Regions from separate parts of the Homo sapiens genome. Here regions 1, 2, 3, 4 and 6 are each reported to be linked to region 5. Evidence: microRNA targets listed by miRTarBase, many of them from high-throughput screens and not tested one by one. Region 5 holds a microRNA gene; each other region holds the end of a gene's coding sequence.
The links. The annotated mature microRNA hsa-miR-1236-3p reads CCUCUUCCCCUUGUCUCUCCAG and lies in region 5 at 1,375-1,396, shown strand. An mRNA with a match to its seed (bases 2 to 7 or 8) in the 3' UTR can be bound and repressed. Matches are read on the target gene's strand: a 7mer-m8 pairs with bases 2 to 8, a 7mer-A1 pairs with bases 2 to 7 and ends in A, and an 8mer does both.

Region 1 (4,088 bases), not on the chromosome of region 5:
CTGCTCATCTGTGCTAAGTGCCACTGTCTACTTCTGATCCCCAAAACAGTGGCCTCTAGCCTTTCCTTCTGCCTAACTCCAAGTAGAGTGTTCTTTTTATAATCCTTCATGTTCATATAACACTTTAGCATTTACAGAGTGTTTTCACATGCTTATTTGTGAGGTATTATCACAGTGCTAGAAATAAGGAAAGGCTGAGACCTACCAAAATGACAGTGTTGTACGTGAGCAGGCTGAGCCTTGAAAGCAGGACCTCTGTCTCCCACATTAGCGCTTCATTCCATCACACCTCTGCAAGGACAGGTAGCCTGCTGGGGGGCCATGGTGGCACTGGGGTATAAAATCTCTAAACTGCTAATATCCTCTTTTCCTTCTAGGCTGAGAACATCTCTAAGGACCTCTACATAGAAGTATATCCAGGGACCTATTCTGTCACTGTGGGCTCAAATGACTTAACCAAGAAGACTCATGTGGTAGCAGTTGATTCTGGACAAAGCGTGGACCTGGTCTTCCCTGTGTGATGTTGACCATCACTGCCATCACATCACCTTTTTTTAAGTAGTAAGAATAAAGCCACTGTATGATTCTCTTAATAGCTATACATTAATCCTGTTTTTAGTGCTGACTGGGTCAGCCTTCCGGGAACTGGAGTCTGTCTCTTTCAGTGCTTTTTTGTTTGTTTGGTTGGTTTTTTTTTGAGACAGTCTCACTCTGTTGCCCAGGCTGGAGTGCAGTGGCGTGATCTCGGCTCACTGCAAGTTCCGCCTCCCGGGTTCACACCATTCTCCTGCCTCAGCCTCCCGAGTAGCTGGCACTACAGGCACCCGCCACCATGCCCGGCTATTTTTTTTGTATTTTTAGTAGAGACGGGGTTTCACCATGTTGGCCAGGATGGTCTCGATCTCTTGACCTCGTGATCCACCCACCTTGGCCTCCCAAAGTGTTGGGATTACAGGCGTGAGCCACCGCGCCCGGCCTCAGTGCCTTTTTTAACTTGAGGGTGTAGAGGTCCTCCACGCTTGTTTGCCTGAAAGTAATATAATGATGCTGTCTGAACAGGTTTTACTGCTTGCTTTCCAAGTAAAGGTTAATTATGATAATAAAGAGATTTGGAAATGAAGAGAATTCATTTTTATTAAGAGGTGAAACAAAATGTCACTCATGTACAACTAGGCTTTATGGGAAGGTGGCAGAGTGGCTGTGGACACATTTGCCCAAAGCAGGCTGACCCCCTCTTCCACGGAAGAGGCATCTTAAAGCAGTTTCACCAGGGCCCTGGCAGGGAGCCCCAGGGCAGGATCCCACATTCCTATAGCCCTCACAACAGGTGCCTTCCTGCTGCTTATCTGCAGGGAGGTCTTCGTGGGGTGGAGATACTGGTGGTTATTTGACTGTTACCTGTGGCCTGTCCTCTGCCTCCTTCCGTTGAAGAAGGCCTTGTCAGCCACTCTGTATAACTCTCCTCGAATATTTACCATGTTTATTCTTTACCTATAAAAGGGGGAAAAATTCCATACATTGTTATGCTGACTGCAATTTTAAGAATCAAAAGTCACTGATTTTAAAAAGTCATTGATTGTGGCCGAGTGCGGTGGCTCATACCTGTAATCCCAACATTTTGGGAAACCAAGGCAGGAAGATCACTTGAGCCTAGTAATCAAGACCAGCCTGGTCAACACAGTGAGACCCTATCTCTACAAAAAGTAAAAAATTTAGTCAGGTGTGGTGGCATGTGCCTAGCTACTCAGGTCCTAGCTACTCAGGAGGCTCAGGTGGGCGGCTCACTTGAGCCCAGGAGTTCAAGGCTGTAGTGAGCCATGATTATGCCACTGCATTCCAGCCTGAGTGACAGAGTGAGATCCTGTCTCAGAAAAAAAAGTCATTGCTGTGTCCCAAATGTCTTGAAGCTGCCACAGCAGAACTGTGACATCTCCCAGTTTCGTTGCCTGGTGATTCTCTCATTTTGAACACAAACCTTTCCTTGGGAAAGGTGCCAGTATTTTATATAATGGAAATAAAGTTTAAGTAGGGCTATATTATCATTCTTAGTGAGGAATAGACTCCATATTCAGAGGGCCTAATAAAGCAGACCCCTACCCAATACCATAGAACAGAGGGTCATTTAAACGGGGATCCTTGCACCCCCAAGAAGCCTGTGATTAAATTCATGGGTTCCATAAGCCTTCTGAAATTACATGCAAAATTGAGGGTATGTGCATTTTTCTAGGACAAGGGGTCATAGGTTTTACTGTTCTCAAAGGGGATGTGACCCAAAAGGTCTAAGACCCATGTGAGGAGTCCTTAGGAAGCCCCTTTCCAGCCATTCTGCTTTACCTAGATCCTCAGGGCTCTTAGTCTAACGGGAATTCTTGTTCCACTGACATATTGCAAGGCTCTGACTCCGCTTTCTGTGTTCAGCTTCCCCTGGCGGGGTCCGCGGTGGCTTCATGTGGGTTGCTTTCGAGACCAGCTCCTTGGTAGTCCCCACTACTGCAGTTTGTGCTCTCTGCTGTTTGTGATCCTTTTCTTCTTTGCAGATGTTGGAATATCTTGTTCCTAAACCCAAAAGTCAATTACTTAGGTTGAATATGCCACCATTTTGATGGCATAAGTAGAACTAAAACAAGGATCACTGAAGTATCTGTAAGCTCAAGCATTGTTTTCTTTTCATTTATTATGTATTTGAGACAGGGTCTTGCTATTATCACCCAGGCTGGAATGCAGTGGCATGATCATAGCTCACTGCAGCCTCAGCCACCCGGGCTCAAGTCATCCTCCCACCTGCCACCCGCTCTTCACTACAGCCCCCAGTAGCTGGGACCACAGGCGCACACCACCATGCTCAGCTAATTGTTTAGTTTTTTGTAGAAACGGTCTCACTATGTTGCCCAGGCTGGTCTTGAACTCCTGGGCTCAAGAGATCCTCCAGCCTCAGCCTCCCAAAGTGTTGCAGTTACAGGTATAAGCCACTACACCTGGCCTGTTTTCTTTTGCCATCATGCAATGTGTCCATGTAATGTTTTCTATTTTTAGAGAAAAAAATTGTTATCATTTCTGGACCTTATGCTTTTGGGAAACATTACCTGATACCCAAGATTTGGAGTTGTGAAGAAGTTATTGGATGTGTCTTCTAAACTGCCAGTAGGGCAAGCAAAGGTAACTGACTGCCACCAGTTAAAGGAGCTTCGACACCTTCACTGATCACTGATAACACAGACCACAAAGAAGAGATTACAAGCTGATAGAAAACAAATATTAAGAAATTGAACTGGGTGCATTGGTGCACACCTGTAGTCCCGACTATTTGGGAGGCTGAGGTGGGAGGATTGCTTGAGCCCAGGAGTTTGAGGCTGCAGTGAGCTATGATCGTGCCACTGCCCACCAGCCTGGGTGACATAGTGAGACCCTGTCTCTAAAAATAAAAAAAAAATTGGGGCAAAACAAAAATAATGGGAGATGTGACTTCCTGAGGAATAGACCAATCTAAAAGGGAAGGAATGCTTTTTACGTTTCTTTTAAAACTACAGATTGAATCCTGTTTCAGTCAAAGGAGGCAGAAAGTACCTCCCTGCCAGCAGCTCACAATCTGGCCTCCCTAGGACTATTAGGATCTAATTGGAACCTCTCACTGCCTGTAACTGAAAGTAAGGGAAAGTGTGGAGGACAGAGAAACCTATGCAAGAGCTTTTGTGAGAGGCAAAGCTCAAAATTGAGTGTCAAGCATCAGCACTCGACAGAACGGATATCAAGTCCTGATAGCAAGAACTGATTAAACATCAAGCATGTTTAGGAGAAGCAAAACAGCACATTTCCTTTAAAAGATACAAAACCTGGAGGGGAGAAAAGCAAAGCTCTGGTGTTTGCCTTGTTTCAGCCCTGACCCTGGTTTTCTGTGCTTCTCTTCACTAGTGAGCAGGTAGTCCCACACATGTGGTGAGGGCGGGGGATGGCCATGTCTCCACACCCCCTCTCGGGCATGCTCTCCATATATTTGGGAACATACTGATGATGCTCATGGGTCAGCCCCAGGAACTTTCCCTAGAGCATAACACAAGATCCAGTATTTAACAGGAAAGCCCGGCCAAGTA
Region 2 (4,071 bases), not on the chromosome of region 5:
TCGCCCACCTCCAGCTGCTTTCGAGAGGCAGTGGCTCACCAGCCTCCAAAGGAGCAATCCAGGGTGGGTGGGGGTACTCCTGGCAGGGTCAGGCCAGCTCTTCATGTCCAGGGATGTACATGGGTAGCTCGTTGGCCCCCACCGAGGGGTCAGAGCCTGGCCCCTGCTTACAGAGGACACTACAGCCATCCTGTTGAGGGGACTGTTTCCCAAGCTCAGTCCTCAGGGTTGGGTCACCACGGACATCATGTTACTGGGAAACACAAAGCTTGCGGTCACACTCTGCTCGGGGCCCTTAACCCTGGGACAGAAGGGAGTGATTCCGAGAGTTGTGTTGAGGGAGAATTGTGCAGGACCCAAATGATGGCCAAACAGAGGGAAATATAACCCATTTGTCTTCTGGTGGATCTCAAAAGCCATCTATTCAAGGTAAGCACAGATGGAACGACACCCATAGTTACAGCCAGGATCAGGAGAGCACGTGGGAAGAGGGGGGCATTTCAGGGCTGCTCAAACCAAAATCCTGTGTGATAAAAACACCTGTGCTCCCGTCCCTGCCCAGGCCATTAAAAACAACGCTGGCTTCCGCGTGTGGATCCTCTTCTTCCTCGTGATGTGCTCCTTCTCCTTGCTCTTCCTCGACTGGTACGACAGCTAGCCAGGGCCACGGGGGCCCAGCACGAGAGTCCTCATGGGCACTCACAGACTGCGTGCTTTCATGTACTTCCAGTGCTGGAGCATGGTATGACCAGATTTTATCACAGTGCCATTTGAAGGGAAAGGAGTTCAGACAGACAGACGTATTCCCCAAAAAGGGATACCCCAGGCCGATGGTGTTCAGCCATTTAGCAGCTGAAAAAGGAAACAGTGCACACCAATGGGAGGCAGCCTGCGTAGCCCTCATCAGGCAAGACAGACTGAATGCAGGAGTGGGTGATTAGCTGCTCCTTGAACTTGAGGCTGCCTTGGCAGCAGGGGCACAGCAGGCCTCAAGAGCCCCTAATTGTCTCAGGGTTCAAAGGAAGACACTGACCTTTCCCATCCCGGTAGCTTCAGGGAAGATCATAGTTAATAACGTCTCTCAACAAATGATTACTTCTTTGTTTCCTTGTGGCTTCTTGTCTGTCTGAGTCAACGAATACACAGACTTACTGGATTATAGAAGAGAAAATTCACATCTGCCTTGTTAATCTAATAAATATAATTACAGCCCCTTAATGTGTTGTCAATGAGTCTAAGTTGACAAATTCAGTGGCAGCCCAGCCACCTCCTATCAATCAATCAGGGAAGAAATGCAGGGGAGACTGGGGCCCTCAGTGAGGGGCTGCCTGGCATTACTCCTCCAAAGACTGCTGCCCCCAGAACAGGCAGGGGGTGTGGGAGGGCCAGTTTCCCGCCACTGGGTCCAAGGAGCCTTTGTTCAAAGGAAGAAGTGGGCCACGGAAGAACGGGCCTGCTTCTCTCGTGCCTGTGCTTCTGACCTCCAGGAACTGTAAACAGGAACACCTATGTGTAACTGAAGGCATGAGACATCTGTACAGGAAGCATCCCAGCGCCCACATGGGCATGAGACAGTCTGCACTGCGCCTGGTGAAATGCGTGTGTGTACAGACAGTCCACTGGGCAGCACAGGTATCCTCATGTTCTTTATTTGCACAGAGTGAAATGTCAGAAGTTACATGTAAATGAATTCACAGTCAATAAAGTCCACGTCTACCTGGAAATACAGGCTCGGCCTCTGCACTGTGCGCACACGGGCTTCACTTGTGTCTATTCAGATGCGCAGGGAAGCTTTGGCACTGATTTATTGCTCTTGAGTCATTTTCCACAGCTTAACACCACCCTTCTCAGCACACGCCTCTGATGCACACCGCTGCGCCAAGGTCACGGTCTGTGTCTCCAGACACCCTTGATGAGAAAATACATTTTCTGTCTTAGAAGCACATTTCAGGAAACAAGAGTGGCGCTGACCACGGTCACCATGCCTGTTCACAACACATCTCACACTATTTGTCGTTTATTTCTGATCTAAAAAACTGAAACTTTTGACACGTACACCAGAAACAACACATTCAATAACATAGAAGAAATGTCTGCGAATGTCTTTTCTATTTGTTTTACACACTTAGTTCATCTAACTGGCAGTTTTGTAAACATAAACTTTAATATCAAGATTCAAACTGGAACAATTTTCTTACAAAGATTGTGAGTTGAAATTTGTCATTTTGTTTGCACGGTGCCACACCAGTCCCCCACCCCCACCCCACAGCCTTTCCTGCCTGTTTCCCACATCAAGGGATATCAGTTTCATAGAATAAAAATTAAAGTAGCTCAAGCTTACCAGAAATTACATTTCCACTTTTCCCACCCAGCTCATTTCTTTAAAAACTAATGGGGCTATTGGTGCAAATTTATTCATAATAGAAGTGAACCAGAGGGCCAGTGGGGGCTCTTTCCTATCAGCACATCACAGAGCAGACAGACTACCTGCAGGGAGAGTTCTGCACCTCACGGGCCCAGGGCCGTCTCTTCCCAGCCCTCTCCCTCACATGCTCTGCCAGTCTACACACACTGGAGCAAACCCCAGCTGTCTCCACCCAGATGGGTGGTGCCCCTCCCTCCTTACCAAGATGCCAGAGTCAGAGGGGAGGGAGTAGTCAATCCACACCGAGCCTGCCACATTGCAGGGCCGTCCCACCCCGACTCAGGAGTCAGCACAGGGAGGGGTGGGGGGGTCTTTTTCCTCGTTCTCTATGCCACTTACTTACTACAGTGCACCTTGGCAGCAGTCAGCACTGTTACCCGCTGATGGCCGAGGAAGAAATGCGAAGTAGGCTTGCTCTTAGCACAGCGAGAGATCACTCTAGATATGGCTATGGAGGAAGGTTTGCAGACAGCAGGGTCGGTTCAGAAAATCAATTCCACAAAATGCATTTATCTGAGATCCAAACCCTTCGCATATCCAGTGTAAATTTATTTTTTTACAGCATCCAATAAATCCCAGTAAAGGAGCTAAATGAAGATCTTAACATGAAAAGTGGTGTCAGAGCTCTTTAGGCAATGCTGAAATGCACTTGATTTTATGCCCGTGGGTGGTCGGCAGCAAGTTTTATTTGCAAAGCAGCATTAGCAAACAGAAGCAATTGCACCGTAAATGAGTAACCTCTAAAGTATCAGTAATTATATTTAATGAAATGTCCCTCAAAGTCCCTTTGTTATTTGCAAGTGACACATTGTAAGGAACTTGCCCATCCCGCTAAGCTGACTTCTCAGCCGCTTCAGTCTCCTGCTCGGACAGCTTCTCTTCTGACAGAACTGACATCCAGGGCGATACGGAGCGCGTGATGCTCTGCTTGGCCAGGTTGTAGTGGTTTATGACTGTGTAAAATTTCTCCCGGGCACTGGAGTCTTGCTCCGCGTAGTAGCTCTCCAAGCCTTCTGGGATGCACTGGGTGTTCTGAAAGACAAGAGGCCACTGAGAGCACGCGTCGGTGCAAGAGGGGGTGCCAGTGTGTCTCCAGTTGGCAGCCAACAGTTACTGAGCACCTTCCCTGAGCTTGGAGGAATAGATACAGTGATGAGCAAAAACGGGCATGGATCTTGCCCTGAGAGAGCACAGCACAGGGGAAGCCTGGCCTTGATTATTCTTAATAGACTGGCTGGTGAGTGCCATGGCAGATGGGCACTTGGGCTCCAAGGGTGCCAGTGTAATGGGACAGCAGGCCTTACTTCACTGAAGATCTTGCACTAGTTGTCATTTTTAATCAATTGGAAAACAACAACTTATGAAATATCCCAAAACAACCAATTCAAATGAGGACGGAAGGGAAGTGAGAAGAGCTTCCCTTGAGCTAGGTTCTCAGCAGACCTTAGCTAGGTGAGATGAGGGAGGGGCAGCACTCAAGGCAAAGGAAACCAGAGCAGAGAGGGGCCTTGGGGCGGGAGTCAGAAGAGGCACACAGAGCCACTAGGTGGTCATGACTAGGGGCTGGGAAGATGGCGAGGGGGTAGGGAGGGGCCGTGGGTTGGGGGAGTGCGAGACAGCACTTGGGTCTTACAGAGGTTTATCAG
Region 3 (4,071 bases), not on the chromosome of region 5:
AGATCCTTTCCTATTTTCACTTGATGACTACACATTTTCTCCCTACTACTACTGCTACTACAGGTTTCACTTAGAAGCTTTGCTGCCCGGCAGTTACATTTCTTTATCCATTATTGTTTCCCTGAAGAGAAATAGCAGTATCATTCATCTTCTAAAATGGTGCATTACCACAGCATCTAAGTAAGACTCAAGTATAGGGCATTTACCATTGGCTGTTCTGGGAGTATTATCTAAGAATTGGATTTCAATGTCTGTTATTTATTTTTAAAAATATTTCTATGAATTTATGATAATATGTTGGCATAGGATGATTACAATTGATAAAAGGTAAATTTAACAATTTCATGCTTGTTGCAAATAAGTCAAAAAGCCAAAGTCCCCATGTTTGTTGGTAATTAAACAAAATGAGTAGCATGAAACATAAAAAATATGAATCATGCTGTGTTTACAGACCACATGCCAGAAAAATATCTTCTGGGAAATATACCCCCCAAATAAGACATAATTGAATTTCTTTTTTTTAAAAAAGATATACTTTATGTGACCTACTCATATCTGTGTTATTACCCATCCAGGGAGCCTTGAGAACGGCAATTTCTCCTTCTGGGATTCAGTTTCCTTCTGTAAAATATGGAGGCTGAAGAAGTTCATCTCTAAAAGTTCCCTTACAGCTCTGCAGTTGGCTCTAATTTTATGACATGTGCCCTGGAAAGCTCCTTGGTGACAAACATGGGTTCAAATCCTCAGTTCATCACTTACTAGCTTTTTAAGCTTCTAAAGGTTATATTTTATTGAGTGCTTATATTTTAATCTGTGAAATTGGATAAAAATACCACTCTAATAGAATTGTTTGAGGATCAAATGGGAGAATAGGAGCTGCAAAGCCATTAGCGTAAGAATAGTTGGTTAATAGACATCCAATGCCTGTTACTAAACCCAAGGCCCTGGTTTCCTACCCTTTCCTTCTCTCCTTAAAAATTCAAATCCATATGTATTCTTGGCAAATAAAGGAAACTAAAATAAAATTTGAAAGATGCCATGAATAAGCAAAATGTATAGGATGTGGACATTTTAGAAAATTAATTTTTATCTCCCTAGCTTGGGAATGCCTTTGGGTTTGAATATAGCAGACAAAGCAGTAGTAAGAAGTCAAACTAAATCCAAAGCTCCATATGACTTTGCAATTTAGCACTATTTATATATTTAAAGACAAGCATGGCACCACATGCATTAATAACAGTATATCACATAGGAATATAAACCCTCCACATAGACTCAGCACTGGTTCTAAACTTTTCAAAATCACATAAAATCAGTTTGGAATTTCACAACCTTAAGAAAGAAGAGAAGTTTAAATTCACAAGAAACCTATTAAAATATTAAATGAGGATACTGAAAACTGACTGTAGGGGTTTGATGGTTTAAACAGTTTACCAGGGATTGCCTAAAATAACCCTAGGAACCTCTTTTCTCACTTGTAAGTCTATTAATAGGTGATGTGTTTGAATTTTACTGGGCATTTTGGCCCCTGATGGATTAGACAGAAGGAAGCATTCTAAAATTTAATCTTTCCTCGTTCTGCTCTCGGAAAGGCTCACATTATTAATTTTTTTTCTAGTAATATCTGATTGAGTACTAAATGCAACCATGCCCTTATTCCAGTCAGTTGAAATGCCCTGTAGAAGGAGAAGTGAGCAGACTTACCTTTTATCCTGTATGTAATTACATAGAAGGGCTGAGTTTCTGGCACAACCACACAAATTACCTATTGAAATGCTGCTCTACCTACTTCACGTGGCAAGGTATCTAAGCCCTCAAGGACAGCTAAGTGGGCTCGTTATTGTAAAGGGACTCCCATTGTCTGCTATTTGTCCAGTAATTCATGAACCATTGGCATATTACTGGTTCCTTATTTATTACCACTGACAAATGATTTCATAATACTGACCAGAGGGATTACACAGCTCACAAAAACTTTCCATATAAGAAGCACGATGTTAAAACACAGCAGAGGCCATCAAACACAGTATTAATGAGAATTTTGTTAGCTTCTAATGATAATCATTATTGTATCAGAATGCAATTCACACTAATTATTAGTAAAAGTTTACAAACATTAAAAAGTGCATAATAACATTTGGATCTGAGAGGGCTGAAAAAAGACATGAAAACACAACACCAGGGCTTTACTTTTGTGATTGGTGTCCACATGATTGCAAGGAGATTACTTTCTCCACCTGATTCAGCTTAGTGAAGATAAGTTGTCCTCCAAATTTAAATAGTATCATACAGCATTGTGAGAAATTTGATTCCATAGAACAAAATATTTCCAGTCCTTAGTATGATCTTGGCTTTTCTTTTCTACCTTTCCAATTGTCCAAAATTCTCATAAATTAAAATATATATATATATATATATTATGTGGGAGAAGTTCTCCACTTGAGAATAAAACAAATTTGACAGATTGAATTCCAGTCTGTGCAGACACCAAACAGACTGAATTCAGGTGATATTCACATTAATGGATATTTTCAAATGTCTCTATAATAAAGCAATGGAGTCTTGATGAATCTGTTAGACTTAATCAACTCATCAACATACAATGAGCAAGGGGAAAGACTGTGTTTTAAAAAAGGGTGTTCTATCCTGTGTACACCACCACAGTATGGAAAACTAAAATGAAAAGACAGCCCTTTTAAAAATGAGTGGTATAAAAATTCACAGTAATGTACATCATTTTGTTTTTCATAAGCAATCAGAGAAGGGGGCAGTGCTGAGCATATATATTGTACAATACAAAACAGTGTAAATAACACAGCAGTAACACACAGATACGTAATGCTAAAAACAGTGCTTTCTGGATCTTTCTTTTACTGGGTGAACACTTGAGCCAGAGATATTTAAACTCTGGGGTTCAATCAACCCTTCGCAATTAGACACAATTAAATCCTCTGACATTGTGAGGGGCCAGATGCTACAGGAAGAATCATCATCTAGGTCGGAGCTACTCTCTATAAGCATTTCGTCATATGATCAAGTGAAAGGATCCATACAAAAATGACGCCCAAACACAAGCCACATGATTTCAACCATTGCTAATGACAGAGGTAGGGAAAAGTCTGCCTGCAGCCACAGCCTCTGCCCTCATTTTTAACATGATAATGAGCAGGTTCCTGCAATGCAGCACAGCCATTTTCTTTTTCCTCTTTTCACTCATGGAAACAAATGCATTCCAGATACTCCTGGAGATTTGAGACATTTTCAGGTGTGGTCGAGGGTCAAAGTGGGGTGTTAGCTTTCAGATTTTGCTGCTTCTCCCTGGGCTTCCCCACTTTGTTCTGTAGAACTTCGTTGTGCATCTTCTTCACCTTCTGCAAAAGAAAAACGAAAACAGAATAAAGGCAAAATAAAAATGATTGCTTTTATTTACCAACTGTCAATATGTCATATTGGTAACTTCAGAAATACTAAATAGGCCTGAAACCTTGAAGGAACAAGTATATTTTCTTGGTAGTCAGTTCACCACTAAGAAAACAGCTTAAGTTTTCAAGGACTGATTAATTCTGTGAACTTGGGACAGCACGGCTCAAAAACAAAATAATATTCAAATTTTCAGAGTAGTTAGTGATCAGCCAAGCTTTGGATAAATAGCTCAGAAATCTCAAGGCCAGGTCATGTCACTTAGGTATAGTTTCACAGGTTGCAGAAATCAGAAATGTCTTTAAGTAGAAATCAGAAGTGGGAGCATGTTTACCTTTTTATGCCTGATTGTCTTATTTGAAGAAATATTTTAAAACTGCATTTTCTCCTTTTTATAGCACTTGATGATAACCCAGCTAATTTCTCAGAGGTTCTATTAGTTCAAAGTAAAAGCAATAGTTGAAAATGAAAGGACACTATGTCAGCTGGCCAGTCCCTTGTCAAATAGTTACAATGGCCTCTGGTCTGCCCTTAGAGAACATGTGCACAATTCCAATAAAACCACCCTCATAACTGCACCCTCAGTAGCAATCTTAGCCAGTGGTATGGCAAACATTTCAATGCTTTCACTCCATATTAGGTCACTTTATA
Region 4 (4,088 bases), not on the chromosome of region 5:
CGCAGCAGCCAAAGAGAGGCAAGAGAAAGAGAAAGCGGGCGGTGGAGGGGTCCCGGAAGAGCTGGTCCCCGTGGTTGAGCTGGTCCCCGTGGTTGAATTGGAAGAGGCCATAGCCCCAGGCTCAGAGGCCCAGGGCGCTGGGTCTGGTGGGGACGCGGGGGTGCCCCCAATGGTGCAGCTGCAGCAGTCACCACTAGGGGGTGATGGAGAGGAAGGGGGCCACCCCAGGGCCATTAACAACCAGTACTCCTTCGTGTGAGCCAACCCCACCCGCTCCACCCTTTTTAAACCCCCCAGCCCTGCTCGTGAGATTGGGCTGGGTAGGGACAGAGGAGGCCGAAATCCCTCCCCCATGCTTCCTGACCCTTGTTGGCCAAGGGCATCTTTGATGGTACAAGCAGAGGCTCGGGAGAGGCTCCCGTCACACACTACAGGTCCCCTCCCCAGGGCAGGGGATTTGGGCTCCATGAGCTCCTTGAGGGGCTCTTCTGGTCAGCCCCACCCTGGGGGCCATTTCCCCATTAACTACCCCCAGCCCGAGGCAGGGTGAGGGGGAAGGGCTGTCAGTTACATTAAGGTGGTTGTTGTTGTTGTTTTAAACAAAATGGAGAAGCATAAATAAATAAAAAGGTTTATCTCGGTTCTATCGTGATGGCTATGGCCATTGTTTGCTGTGGGGACTGGGGACAGTTGGGTTGGGAAGGCAGCCCACTCAGTGCCCACAGGCCAGAGGGCTGGCCCAGGCCAGTCCCCATCATTCTGCAGTGCTGTGCTTTCGGAGCCATCCCTGTGTCTGACAGCCTTGTTCGTGGAGCACTAAATGATGCTCTTGGGGTCTCCTGCGAGTTTTTGTCATGGGACAGTGCTGTGAATGGCAGGCATGGTGATCTCCAGCGGCCCTTCCTGAGTTATGGCTTTGTACCCTAGAGAGAGCTGGCAGTGAGAGATGGGAGGCACGGTGGCTGTGCTGGAAGAGATTGAACGTGGCAGTCACAGGGTAGCCGCAGAGGGGCCCAATGGCCCCCTTCTCAAAGCCAGGCTGGAGGGATGGCAGAGGGCACTAGCTTCTGTCCTGGCCTTGCCACTCACTGGCCTGGGCAAGGTGTAGCCACGCCGGGCCTGAGCATCCTCATCTGTGACATGTGAAGTTTCATCTTGAGTCAGAGCTGCTGACATGGTTTGCTTGGCCTGGACATGGTGTCCATTTGAGTTTCACATTAAAAATTCAGATCACAGGCCAGGTGTGGTGGCTCACGCCTGTAATCCCAGCACTTTGGGAGGCCGACGTGGGTGGATCACCTGAGGTCAGGAGTTTGAGACCAGGCTGACCAATGTGGAGAAACCCCGTCTCTACTAAAAATACAAAAAATTAGCCGGGTGTGGTGGTGCGCGCCTGTAATACCAGCTACTCAGGAGGCTAAGGTAGGAGAATTGCTTGAGCCCAGGAGGTGGAGGTTGCTGTGAGCCAAGATCGCACCATTGCACTCCAACCTGGGCAACAGAGCGAGACTCTGTCTAAAAAAAAAAAAAAAAAAAAAAAAATCACTGGCTTCTCTTAAAAATCAGAAGATCCAGTGATGTGGGTCCACTTCCACATCTGCCCCATCCCCACCAGCTCACTTTGCTCCCTGGGAGGGCCTGGCCCTGTGGGCATTTGAGTTTATAACACCACCCCCATTGTGGCACACCCCTCCACCCCGTAAAACACAGGCTCTGCTCTTGGAATCAGTCTTCCTGATCTGTGGCTGTGCCCTCCAACAGAGGGCACCCCTGGGCTTCCCAGCTCTGGGGGTAGTGGGTGCCAACAAGGAGGGGCCTGGGGCTGAAGAATCCCACCCGCTGAGCTCGGCCTTCTCCCTTCCCCACTGTCCAGCTCCGCCTTTCAGCATCCTGCCTCACTCCCCGCCCAGGCAGCAAGGAGCCCACACCCTCATGCCCCTCAGCTTCAGCCCCCACCTCCAGGAGGCCCTACCCACGCTCATGACCTTGCTATTCTGGGCCTTGTGTCCTGTAGGGAGATGGACAGGAGACAGCTGGGCTTCCAGGCCACCCAGGCGGGGGGCTAGCCGAGGGAAGCCTGCTGGCTCTCCTGCTTGCTCTAATTTCTGGGGCTCCCCAAACCTTGGCCTCAGGAGACTGGGGATAGGACCGGCCTTGAAAGTGGGGGAAGCTTTGGAGAGCCGGGTGCTGGGTTCTTAGTGAGATGGCCAGTGAAGGCTGTGGTGCCCCGAGGTAAGCAGGGCCTGATCCCCTCCTAATCTTCCAGCAGCAACTGGTGCTCTGAGGCTCCCCCTCCCCCAGCCCTGCCAGCCTTCAGGGACCTGCCTTCCAAAGATGGGCAGGGGAGGGGGACGAGGACACCCACCCACTCCTCAGACCAGCATGTCTTGGCTGTTGGGGCCTGAGAGACTTTCCCTCTAAGCCTTTCTTTACAGATGGTTAAACCGAAGTTCTGCACTCATCAGGGACTGGCCAGGGTGTCTCTGTGTCCCATGCTTTTAGCTCCAGCCCTCAGGTGTGACAGGAGGATCACTTTCCATCCCTGGGCGTGGAGACCCCTGTGGGAAGGGATCCCCGAGGGCGCCTCTGGCTCAGCCTCCCTCCATGGCAGTTCACACCCACAGCCTTCCCTAGAGCAGCCCTTCTGCAGCTCCTGGCGGGTGGCTTTCCCTCCCTGGCTTGTTTCCCCCTCTGGGAAGCCGGGGGAGGTAGAAATGAATAACCTTAAAGGCCTGTTGGCAGGAATGTGCTGCCAAGCCTGCCCCCTGCCCTCTGTCTCAGGCTCTCGACTCCCTCGAAGCTGCCCATCTCTCCGTCTGCCCCTCTCCATGTTTGGGCATTCCCACTGCTGTAAGACAGTAGCCCCTGTCACTCCTCCAGGTGCCGGTGGGGAGACGCCGGCCAGCGCCAAAAGCCTTGGCGGGTGTGAGCCTGAGTCCAGCGGAGACGGTGGGTGCTGGGCCGGGTGGAGGTGCCGGGGGCTGTGTCTCTTGGAAGAGAGGCTGCTAATGCTCTCCTGCACCCCCAATTCAGCCCACTGTCCCCCACTCCCCTCAGGTCACAGCAGGATTCTGCTTCAGGGGAGGGGTTTGTTGGAACTGTGAAAAGGAGGCAGGAAGGAGCACCTTGTCCTCAACTCACCCAGGAGGCCGCGCCTCACCCAAGTCCAGGCAGAAGGGATGCATCTGGGAGGCTGAACCCTCAAGTTCCATCCACCCCTGCTGCCATCCCCCTCCCCAAAAGTGGGGGCCTCCCTTTTCTTTGCTCTGCTGTCTCCTATTCTGTCCTCTGCTTCGGAGTTTGAGCCCCAGAATGGAAAGCAGCCTTAAGAAGCCACACTTAGGAAGTCCACATGCCTCTGCTCATTTCAGGAAACAGGCCTAGACAGAGGACGGACTTGAGCCCAGGGCACCAGGCCCCTTCCCCTCACTGACCTTTCACCCTGACTCTCATCCAGCCTTTCTGCCTGCCTGTCCTCCCCTTCCTGCACCCCTGGTACCCTCCCTCGGCTCCTCCAGCAGCTGCCCTGGTGGTAACCAAGAGACGCCCCCATCCTGGAGCAGGGGTGGGGAGGGGCAGCTCAGAGCAGCTGCTTCTCTGAGGAAGCTGACACCAAGGCCAGCATTCAGCAACAACTTGTGGCTTTGCACCCAGCGCCGGGGTCCCCGCCCACCTGGCTCCCTGCTGTCCCTCTTCCCCACTGCTGCTCGGACTTCCCTCTGACCCTGGTGGCTCTGTGTCTCTGCTCCCTTTCCCCCTAGGTCTAGACATCTGTCCTTATTTCCCCCAGACCTGTCCCCAGAAGTCCACCCTTCCCCATTCCTTTGGTCTGGAGCCCCTGCTTGGTCCAGCTTCCCCAGGCCCCGACACCTTTCTGTGGGGTCTGCCTAGCTCCTGCACGCACACAGCATGGGCCTGATCCTGTTCCCCTCGTGGACAGATGCAGCAGGGCAGAGTGCAGCGCAGACCACAGGCCTCTGGGGCTGGCCACAGAAACCCCGTTGGTTAGAGCACAGTGTGGGATGAGGTGACCCTCAGTGCACGACTTGGGGTGACCCCTGCCCCCATCCTGAGACAGTTACCCCTCC
Region 5 (4,088 bases):
AGGTGGGCTTTCCCAAGCCTTGGTGTGGACCTTCTGTCTTTTCTATGCAATTTGCCATGGATTGTCTTCCTTTCCCATGGCTTTTAGTACCGCTTAAGAGCTGATGATCCCCAAGTTTGTTTTTTCCAGTTCTATCCAGTGTTATACTGAAAAACTTCAGATACTCAGTGTTGAAGCTATCATCTTTCTATTCTTGATCTTCCAAATAAGATTGACTACACCAATTCTGCCACATGTTTGGACTCAAAACTCTGACTTCCCCACTATTTGCATAGTCAAACCTTTGCCAAGTCTTATTGTTTCTTCTTTTGAAGTAATTTTTCCTGTTTATTCTTCACTGTGCATTCCCCCGAGCAGGGCTTTATTGACATTCATGTGGGCCATTGTAATGGTCTCTCAACAAATTTCTCAGTCTTTTTTTTTGAACAGACTTCTTCACTCCTGTTCAAATGATCCATTGAAAACACAAAATTCTGCTCCCTCTGTTTCTCAAAAACCATAAATGGCTTCACATTGTCTATAAAAAAGCCTCAAAACCTTAGTTTGGCAGCCTTGTCTAGTAAAGTAGAACTATTCACTACTTCCAAAAGATGCATTCCCAAAGCCTTCTTATCTCTGCATCTTTGCCACCCTGTTTTCTTTTTCTAAAATACCCTTCTCCTCTCTGTGTTGTGCAGAGATACGGGAGAGGGCCTAGTTTAATAGCCATTAAACATCAGAAAATCTTACTAGCTTTCAGCTATGAATAATCTGCACCTCTTATAATTGTATTGCTAACTCAATGTATTTTATTTCTCAGACTGTAAGCTTCTTGAGGGTAGGAACAATGCATTAGCCTCCTGGATATCCCTGTTACGAAGTCATGGCTGGGCCTCATTCAATATGCAGGAAATAGATGGATGAAGCTTCCAGGAAAGGCACATAAACTTATACTTACTTGCAGCTTATATCCTAGGATTCTAGTCCATGATTGAGTTATTTGTCTTCAACTTCAAAAATGTAACACTCTGGAAAACCTCTGGGTTCCGTGGTTTGGTTAGATTAGGAATTTCCAGCATCATACATGATCTAGGGGACCAGAGGCAAGAGGCAGAGCACATCAGTGTACCACTCTGAGGGCATCAAGAAAGACGGTCCCTGGAGTGATGTGCCCAGGGGCCTTAGGAGAGGAACCGGCTAGGGGCTGGCCCTCACTTACCTCTCTCTTCTCACCCTTGTTCCCAGAAAAAGGCATTGCTGGCTCTGAAGAAGCAAAGTAGCAGCAGCACAACCAGCCAAGGTGGTGTCAAACGCTGTGAGTGACAGGGGAAATGGGGATGGACTGGAAGTGGGCAGCATGGAGCTGACCTTCATCATGGCTTGGCCAACATAATGCCTCTTCCCCTTGTCTCTCCAGCACTATCAGAGCAGCCTGTCATGGACACAGCCACAGCAACAGAGCAGGCAAAGCAGCTGGTGAAGTCAGGAGCCATCAGTGCCATCAAGGCTGAGACCAAGAACTCAGGCTTCAAGCGTTCTCGAACCCTTGAGGGGAAGTTAAAGGTGAGCACAAGCAGAAAGATTGTTTAAAGGGCATCCCTCCAAGTTGGAATGTAGATGGGTTTGGGGAAAAATATGCATACTCAAGCACTGGCAAATTGCTGTACCATTCTGAGTTTCACCTCTCATGTATAAAATGAAAAAACTAGACGACTCCTGAATTCTCCATTTTACAAATTCTGTGGTTCTAATCCACCTTGGATTGGAGCTCTTGGAATATGTTGCCCTAAGGGATGGAAAGGGCTGAAAATGTTATCAGGTTCAAGAGAGGTTCAAATAAACTGAATACATAATATATCGAGTCACTTATAAAAAATACCAGCTGGGCGTGGTGGCTCATGCCTGTAATCCCAGCACTTTGGGAGGCTGAGGTGGGCAGATCACTTGAGATTAGGAGTTTAAGACCAACCTGGCCAACATGGTAAAACCCCGTCTCTACTAAAAATACAAAAATCAGCAGGGTGTGAGGCCGGGCGCGGTGGCTCACACCTGTAATCCCAGCACTTTGGGAGGCCGAGGCAGGCGGATCACGAGGTCAGGAGATCGAGACCATCCTGGCTAACAAGGTGAAACCCCATCTCTACTAAAAATACAAAAATTAGCCGGGCGTGGTGGCGGGCGCCTGTAGTCCCAGCTACTTGGGAGGCTGAGGCAGGAGAATTGCTTGAACCCAGGAGGCGGAGCTTGCAGTGAGTCGAGATTGTGCCACTGCACTCCAGCCTGGGTGACAGCGAGACTCCGTCTCAAAAAAAAAAAAAATTAGCAGAATGTGGTGGTGCACACTTATAGTCCCAGTTACTGAGGAGGCTGAGGCCAGAGAATCACTTGAACCCAGGAGGCAGAGGTTGCAGTGAGTGGAGATCACACCACTGCACTCCAGCCTGGACGACAGAGCAAGATTCTGTCTCAAAAACAAAACAAAACAAGCCACAATGGCAGGTGCGGCAATGGCTCATTCCTGGTTAATTTCAGCACTTTAGGAGGCCGAGGTAGGAGGATTGCTTGAGCCCAGGAGTTTGAGACCAGCCCTGGCAACATAGTGAAACCCTATCTCTACAAAAAAAAAAAAAAATACAGAAATTAGCCAAGCATGGTAGAGCACATCTCTAGTCCCAGCTACTAGGGAGGCTGAGGTAGGAGGATTGCTTGAGCATGGGAGGTCAAGGCTGCAGCAAGCTACGATTGCTCTATTGCACTCCAGCCTGGACAACAGAGCAGGACCGTGTCTCAAAAAAAAAAAAAAAAAATAAGTAAAACCACGTCAAATAAGAAATGTATGTAGAATTAAAAGGGAAGAAAAGATCAGAGGAAACCTAGAAGAGGGTGAGGGAAGAGGAACACCTCTGGTCCATGGTTGGGCAACCTCCTGCTCCACACTGAGGTAGGTCTCTCACCACTCCAGGACCCCGAGAAGGGACCAGTCCCCACTTTCCAGCCGTTCCAGAGGAGCATATCTGCTGATGATGACCTGCAAGAGGTAAAGGCTCCTAATTTCTGTCCCTGAGGGGTTGGGGATGGAGGAATATGAGAGACAAATATATTTTGGACCACATGTCAGCAACTGGAAATCATCTTAACTGTTCTTGGTCTCTTTTACAGTCATCCAGACGTCCCCAGAGGAAATCTCTGTATGAGAGGTTAGAGAGTAGAGATAAGGCTGGGCCCATTTGGTGGAGTTGATTGCCTGAGTCCTTGGGAGGTTTGGGCTGTAGGAGCTGGGCTATAGAGGGAATATTGAGTCTCCACAGGGTCTGAGGGGAGAAGGTAAAACCCCCCTTTGATCTTCAGTCTGCATCTCCCCAGCTTTGTGTCTTCTAGTGATCGACTTCGAGAACTAGGACCAGATGGAGAAGAGGCAGAGGGCCCAGGGGCTGGTGATGGTCCCCCTCGAAGCTTTGACTGGGGCTATGAAGAACGCAGTGGTGCCCACTCCTCAGCCTCCCCTCCCCGAAGCCGCAGCCGGGACCGCAGCCATGAGAGGAACCGGGACAGAGACCGAGATCGGGAGCGGGATCGAGACCGGGATCGAGACAGAGACAGAGAGCGGGACAGGGATCGGGATCGGGATCGAGATCGAGACCGGGAACGGGACAGGGATCGGGAGCGGGATCGAGACCGAGACCGAGAGGGTCCTTTCCGCAGTGAGTGATTTTGGCTGGAGGTCAAGGTGACCTTAACTGAGGTTTATGTGGGTCCTACTAAGTGAAATGTGGCATGGTCTATGTCTTGTGACTATGATTTGTGCTCCCAAAGGGTCGGATTCATTCCCTGAACGGCGAGCCCCTAGGAAAGGGAATACTCTCTATGTATATGGAGAAGACATGACACCCACCCTTCTCCGTGGGGCCTTCTCTCCTTTTGGAAACATCATTGACCTCTCCATGGACCCACCCAGAAAGTAAGGATGACAACAGGGCATGATGAGAAGTCCTGGGAGAATCCTGGGGTGTGAGACCTGAGGGAAGAAGCTGCCCTCCCTGCAGCCGCCTATTATCACTGGGTTTGGTTGGGTCCAGAAGAGCCCCTTGGCTCTCCACTGACCGTGTTTT
Region 6 (4,088 bases), not on the chromosome of region 5:
TTTATTTCATTGTTTACTTCAAAGTTGTCTTTAAAACTAAGCACACAGAGAAACAAAGCCTAGAAACGGACTGGCTGTGTGTTCACAGAAATACAAACACCACGCGGTATGTGCTAGTAGGGCTGCTCTGAAGACAATTACAAAGAATTGGAATCACAAAATCAAGTGGTTATCTTATGAAGTTCTAGAAAAATAGATTTTTTTTATATTCAAATGCAAGTTTAAATATTTCCCCTTCAGCAGTCGTTCTAGCAAAACCAATTTGGCAGCACAAAAGGAAAAAAAAAGGAAAGAAAAAAAGAAAAAAAAACGAAGAAAGAAACAAACATAATAAAAATACACATCAGCATCAAAGGTCAACACAAGGTCAAAGGTGAGAGTTCAAGCATCAGAGAAGCTGAAGAGACAGGGATTTGGACGATGTACTTGACGCCACATCGACATGCTTTAGGCACAACGATGAACAAACGGCAGGAATCTAGAAAAAAAAACAAACCAGAAAGAGGGAGACCCACTGAGTTACACAGAGCAATACATCCAAACAAAGAGAGAGAGAACAGGAACACTCACTGTGTGTACAGCCCTGAAATGAGGTGGGCGGGCAGGGGTTGGGTAATGACAGGGAACTTTTGCACATGCTAACAATGGACACAGGGAAAAGTCAAAAAGGACATGGAGGACACCAAGAACACATCTAATTGCCAGAGACAGAAGGGAACCTAAGGCTTGGATTTTCCATGAAGCACCCAACTCCTAAGAGAAGGTCTCCAGGGGAGCAGAGCCTCAGCCTCTCTCCCCACTCCCTGGTCACAACCCAAGGGGAAGCAGAAGATGCTGGCTGGGGTGGGGAAAATTTTTCAGGGAAGAGGACCAGAATTTCTGCTCAATCTTATGGGGATGGCCCTTTGTTCCCAGAAATCCAAGCTCTTAGCTTCCATCCAGGCCCTGGCCACTCAAGGGGAACCCAGGAGACAGTGGTCTGGCTGCATTCAAGGCAAATCAATTTCATGATGTAACCCAAGTAAGAAACAAAACTACAGCAGAAAACACATTGTAAGTGAAACCTTCACACAACAGAAAAGGATTGCTTAAGACTTGACAGCGAGTCTCCACTCTGAGCTGAGCCCTTTCACACGTGAGACTTGTAGGGGAGCAGCTTCTTCACAAAACCATCTTTGGCCTGGGGAAAGAACTGTGCTCAAGGGCAGTGCTACTGCTGTGCTAACTCACTGGGCAGGGGGAGGAGAGAACAGAGAAGTGCATGGTCTCACCAGCTGGCTGCTCAAGCAGCCCAGGACCCTGCTGGGGCGAGCATTCCTTTTAGAAAAGAAAACCCATCAGCAGGTATGAAGCCCTCAGGGTCTGGTATCAAAGGTGGGTGGATTGCACCTTGGCCTCTTATGTCATTAGGAAAGGGGTTTCATAAGGTCCCAGAGCCCAGGACAAATCCATGGACAAATAATGGTGAGATGGGGGAAGGCGGAGAGAAGAAGGGGATGTGGGAAGGGAGTGGCGTTCTGGCTAAGGAGGAAGACAGAACAGAAGGCTAGGGAGCACAGCACCGGCAGCACCCTATGGAGCACAGCTCTCTCCTCTGCCAATTCACAGCATTAACACCTTCCCCTTGGGCAGGTTAGCTGGGCTGCAAACGGGCCACAGAAAGTCAGTAGTTTCAATCATACACAGCACCCTGTGTGTATAACAATCACATTCTGGATTCTACAAAATCCTGGCCTTTTCCAGAGATATAATTTAGGTAATAAATATTCTCCACCCCGGAGCTGTATAAAACTTCTATAAAAATAGAAACGACATTCTTGGTTCCAGCCGGTTGGGATTCAGAACAGCGCCTCCCCAACCTAGCATTTTTTTCTTTTTTTTTTTTGTTTTCTTTTTTCTTTTTTATTTTTATTTTTTGCATTTATTTAAAAAATCCCATCATGACCCTGGAAGCCTTTAGAACAGTTTTATCCTTTGAAACACAGGACACATTTCTCCCAGTGCGCAGAATTTCAAGTTTACGTGGTTCAGCTTAAGAAGTGTATGTTTCACGTTCCTTAGAGGACAACAGACCCAAGTTATCACTATGAGAAAGGAACAGCTGTCCCAGCTTCAATGGGATAATCCAACACCACCAGCTACCTGTACAACAGTAAGATGGTCAATCCCTGTCTGTTACCCACAGGGACAGCATGACAAGGAGAGAGCCCCCATCTGACTTAATAGCAAACCAACCCCTTTATTCTTATCTCTGCTGCTAGGGGTCAAGACTGGTATTTGTTGAGGTTTCAGATTCCAGAGACCCAGGGATCCCATCCCTGGCTGTGGCTACAGTCACATCTTAACAGGGCCACCTCTGCCCAGGTGTACATTCCCAACAGCATGTCCTTCCTGGTTCTCTACCCCCACAGCACTTCTTAGAGCAGAGGCAGAGCCCAGAAGCTGTGTGGGTCACAGGCAAGAGCTGAAGTAAGACCTGCAAGAGGCGGCAGGGAGCTAACTGTAGCACGAGGACAAAAATGAACACGGTAATACTGAGGTAAATGAACACTCAATTCATGTGGAGGCTGTAAACGTCCTGATGTCACCTCTGCCTCAAGAGCAGAAAATGTGACTGGAGTGGTTACAGGAGGGGCCTGCCAGACCCCTGTGGGAATACTACATCTGGGACACCTCAATCAAGGAGGCAAGGGAGAATTTCTGGCCACTGGCAAATGAAGCATACTGGCTTGCAGGGACCTTCTGATTCAAGTACACCAAGAAATAAGCTCCTCCTCCCCCAACTAGATGGTATTGATCACTCTGCCCACAAATGGTACCCCCTTCAGCAAGAACTGCAAGCCCTTCTTGGATTTGCCTTCATGAGAAAATGGTGGCTTGGGATGGAGGTGACATTCCTTGCTGTGGTGAACTGCAAAGAAGGAAACCAGGCAATGTATTCCATAGAGGCCTTTAAAGAGACCCGTTGGAAATGGGCCATGGTCTAATTTGGTGTTGAAATAAACTAACCTCTTTGGCTGTTTCTCCCAAACTGCCACCAGCCAGGCAAGGCCAATCCAATACTGACTGCTGGCTGGGGGAGCTCGTAATGGGTGATGCCGCCCTGCTTTTTGCATATGTCAGGCTAACAGGTGCTTTATTTCCAGAGAATTGTTAATGCCCTTTTTTGAAAAGAGCAGCAGAAATTCCGGACAAGAATCTGAAAAATAGGTGTCAAAAACTATTTCCCAGAAGGTAGCTGTACAGGAGTTTGAGTCTCCAGCTGCCAGGGCATTAGGTGTCTAGTCACTCCACTCTTCCCCAAAGCCGCTCTGCTCCCCACAGCTCCCAGGTGTCAGTTCTCATTCTACCCACCCTCACACTAAGAGAGGTTCTGGGGGTCACTTTTTTGTTCCACTCAGTCCTCTCTCTTGGGGTGGTTTGGGGCAAATCCTGATCATCGTCTGTGTTAAATGTTTCCCTGTCCCCCTTCCCCAGGGTGGTTTGGTGTTGGTCCTTCTCAACACACACTGGTTACAAACACAGCAAACTTTAAATAAAGGAGAAACAAAAACAAAAACAAAAAAAACCTCAGGATATGGCACCTAAACTCCAAAGTAAAACACTGGAAACCAAAGCACAAACTTGTCCTCTGTACGAAGCGAAACTCCCACAGAAGGCAGTAGCCGAGTCTTCAGGGCAAGCTGTGCCTGCGAGAGTGGCAGGGATCAGGGTCCAGGGCTGTCAACACACAGCCTCAGGGCTTCGAATCATTAAGGGTGCTCCTCCCCCACTTACCAGAAGACCCTCTCACTCCAGTCTCAGAGGGGAGCACGCTCAGTAGGGCTTGCTGTCATTCTTCGAACGTTTGAGCTGCACTTTAAGCCGCTTCATGCCAATCTGAAAGCCGTTCATGGACTGGATGGCAGCTTGGGCCGAAACAGGATTGTCGTAACTTACAAAACCTGTGTGTCCAAGCAGAAACCTAGGTGAGGGACATAATGAGGCAAGGAGATTCTCAGTCCTCCTTATGCAAGATACCTTATGTGCTTCATCTCAAATCCCAATTTTATTCAGCAGGGACAAGAAATCTGGACATTATGTCATAC

Region 1: miRTarBase lists AKIP1 as a target of hsa-miR-1236-3p. The part of its 3' UTR that is shown has no 7-base or 8-base seed match.
Region 2: the mRNA of NSG1 is a reported target of hsa-miR-1236-3p. Seed matches in the 3' UTR shown: 8mer at 2,526-2,533.
Region 3: the mRNA of PKIA is a reported target of hsa-miR-1236-3p. The part of its 3' UTR that is shown has no 7-base or 8-base seed match.
Region 4: miRTarBase lists SH2B1 as a target of hsa-miR-1236-3p. The part of its 3' UTR that is shown has no 7-base or 8-base seed match.
Region 6: miRTarBase lists CELF1 as a target of hsa-miR-1236-3p. Seed matches in the 3' UTR shown: 7mer-m8 at 3,294-3,300.

The regions. Positions count from the first base shown.
Region 1 is chr11:8,918,960-8,923,047 of GRCh38, forward strand. It overlaps AKIP1 (A-kinase interacting protein 1), which reads left to right. Exons shown (of 6, transcript NM_020642.4): 6 at 378-1,120. The coding sequence ends at 521. C11orf16 (chromosome 11 open reading frame 16) reads right to left here. Exons shown (of 7, transcript NM_020643.3): 6 at 2,335-2,556; 7 at 1,117-1,491. The coding sequence ends at 2,357. Among named protein-coding and RNA genes, the nearest start is that of AKIP1, 9.8 kb to the left of the region's middle.
Region 2 is chr4:4,416,621-4,420,691 of GRCh38, reverse strand. NSG1 (neuronal vesicle trafficking associated 1) reads right to left here. Exons shown (of 5, transcript NM_014392.5): 5 at 1,634-3,457. The coding sequence ends at 3,257. STX18 (syntaxin 18) reads left to right here. Exons shown (of 11, transcript NM_016930.4): 11 at 563-1,724. The coding sequence ends at 658. Among named protein-coding and RNA genes, the nearest start is that of NSG1, 32 kb to the right of the region's middle.
Region 3 is chr8:78,601,042-78,605,112 of GRCh38, reverse strand. It overlaps PKIA (cAMP-dependent protein kinase inhibitor alpha), which reads right to left. Exons shown (of 4, transcript NM_006823.4): 4 at 1-3,371. The coding sequence ends at 3,292. The region is part of intron 2 of LOC105375911 (a long non-coding RNA gene); the gene reads left to right. Among named protein-coding and RNA genes, the nearest start is that of PKIA-AS1, 45 kb to the right of the region's middle.
Region 4 is chr16:28,873,562-28,877,649 of GRCh38, forward strand. SH2B1 (SH2B adaptor protein 1) reads left to right here. Exons shown (of 8, transcript NM_001387430.1): 8 at 1-644. The coding sequence ends at 259. Among named protein-coding and RNA genes, the nearest start is that of ATP2A1, 2.9 kb to the right of the region's middle. RefSeq lists enhancers at 392-892, 893-1,393, 3,898-3,967, 3,978-4,067.
Region 5 is chr6:31,954,147-31,958,234 of GRCh38, reverse strand. It overlaps MIR1236 (microRNA 1236), which reads left to right and starts at 1,295; the gene lies at 1,295-1,396. NELFE (negative elongation factor complex member E) reads left to right here. Exons shown (of 11, transcript NM_002904.6): 3 at 1,225-1,294; 4 at 1,397-1,542; 5 at 2,942-3,016; 6 at 3,139-3,176; 7 at 3,343-3,680; 8 at 3,793-3,937.
Region 6 is chr11:47,468,414-47,472,501 of GRCh38, forward strand. It overlaps CELF1 (CUGBP Elav-like family member 1), which reads right to left. Exons shown (of 15, transcript NM_001376376.1): 15 at 1-3,944. The coding sequence ends at 3,817. Among named protein-coding and RNA genes, the nearest start is that of RAPSN, 21 kb to the left of the region's middle.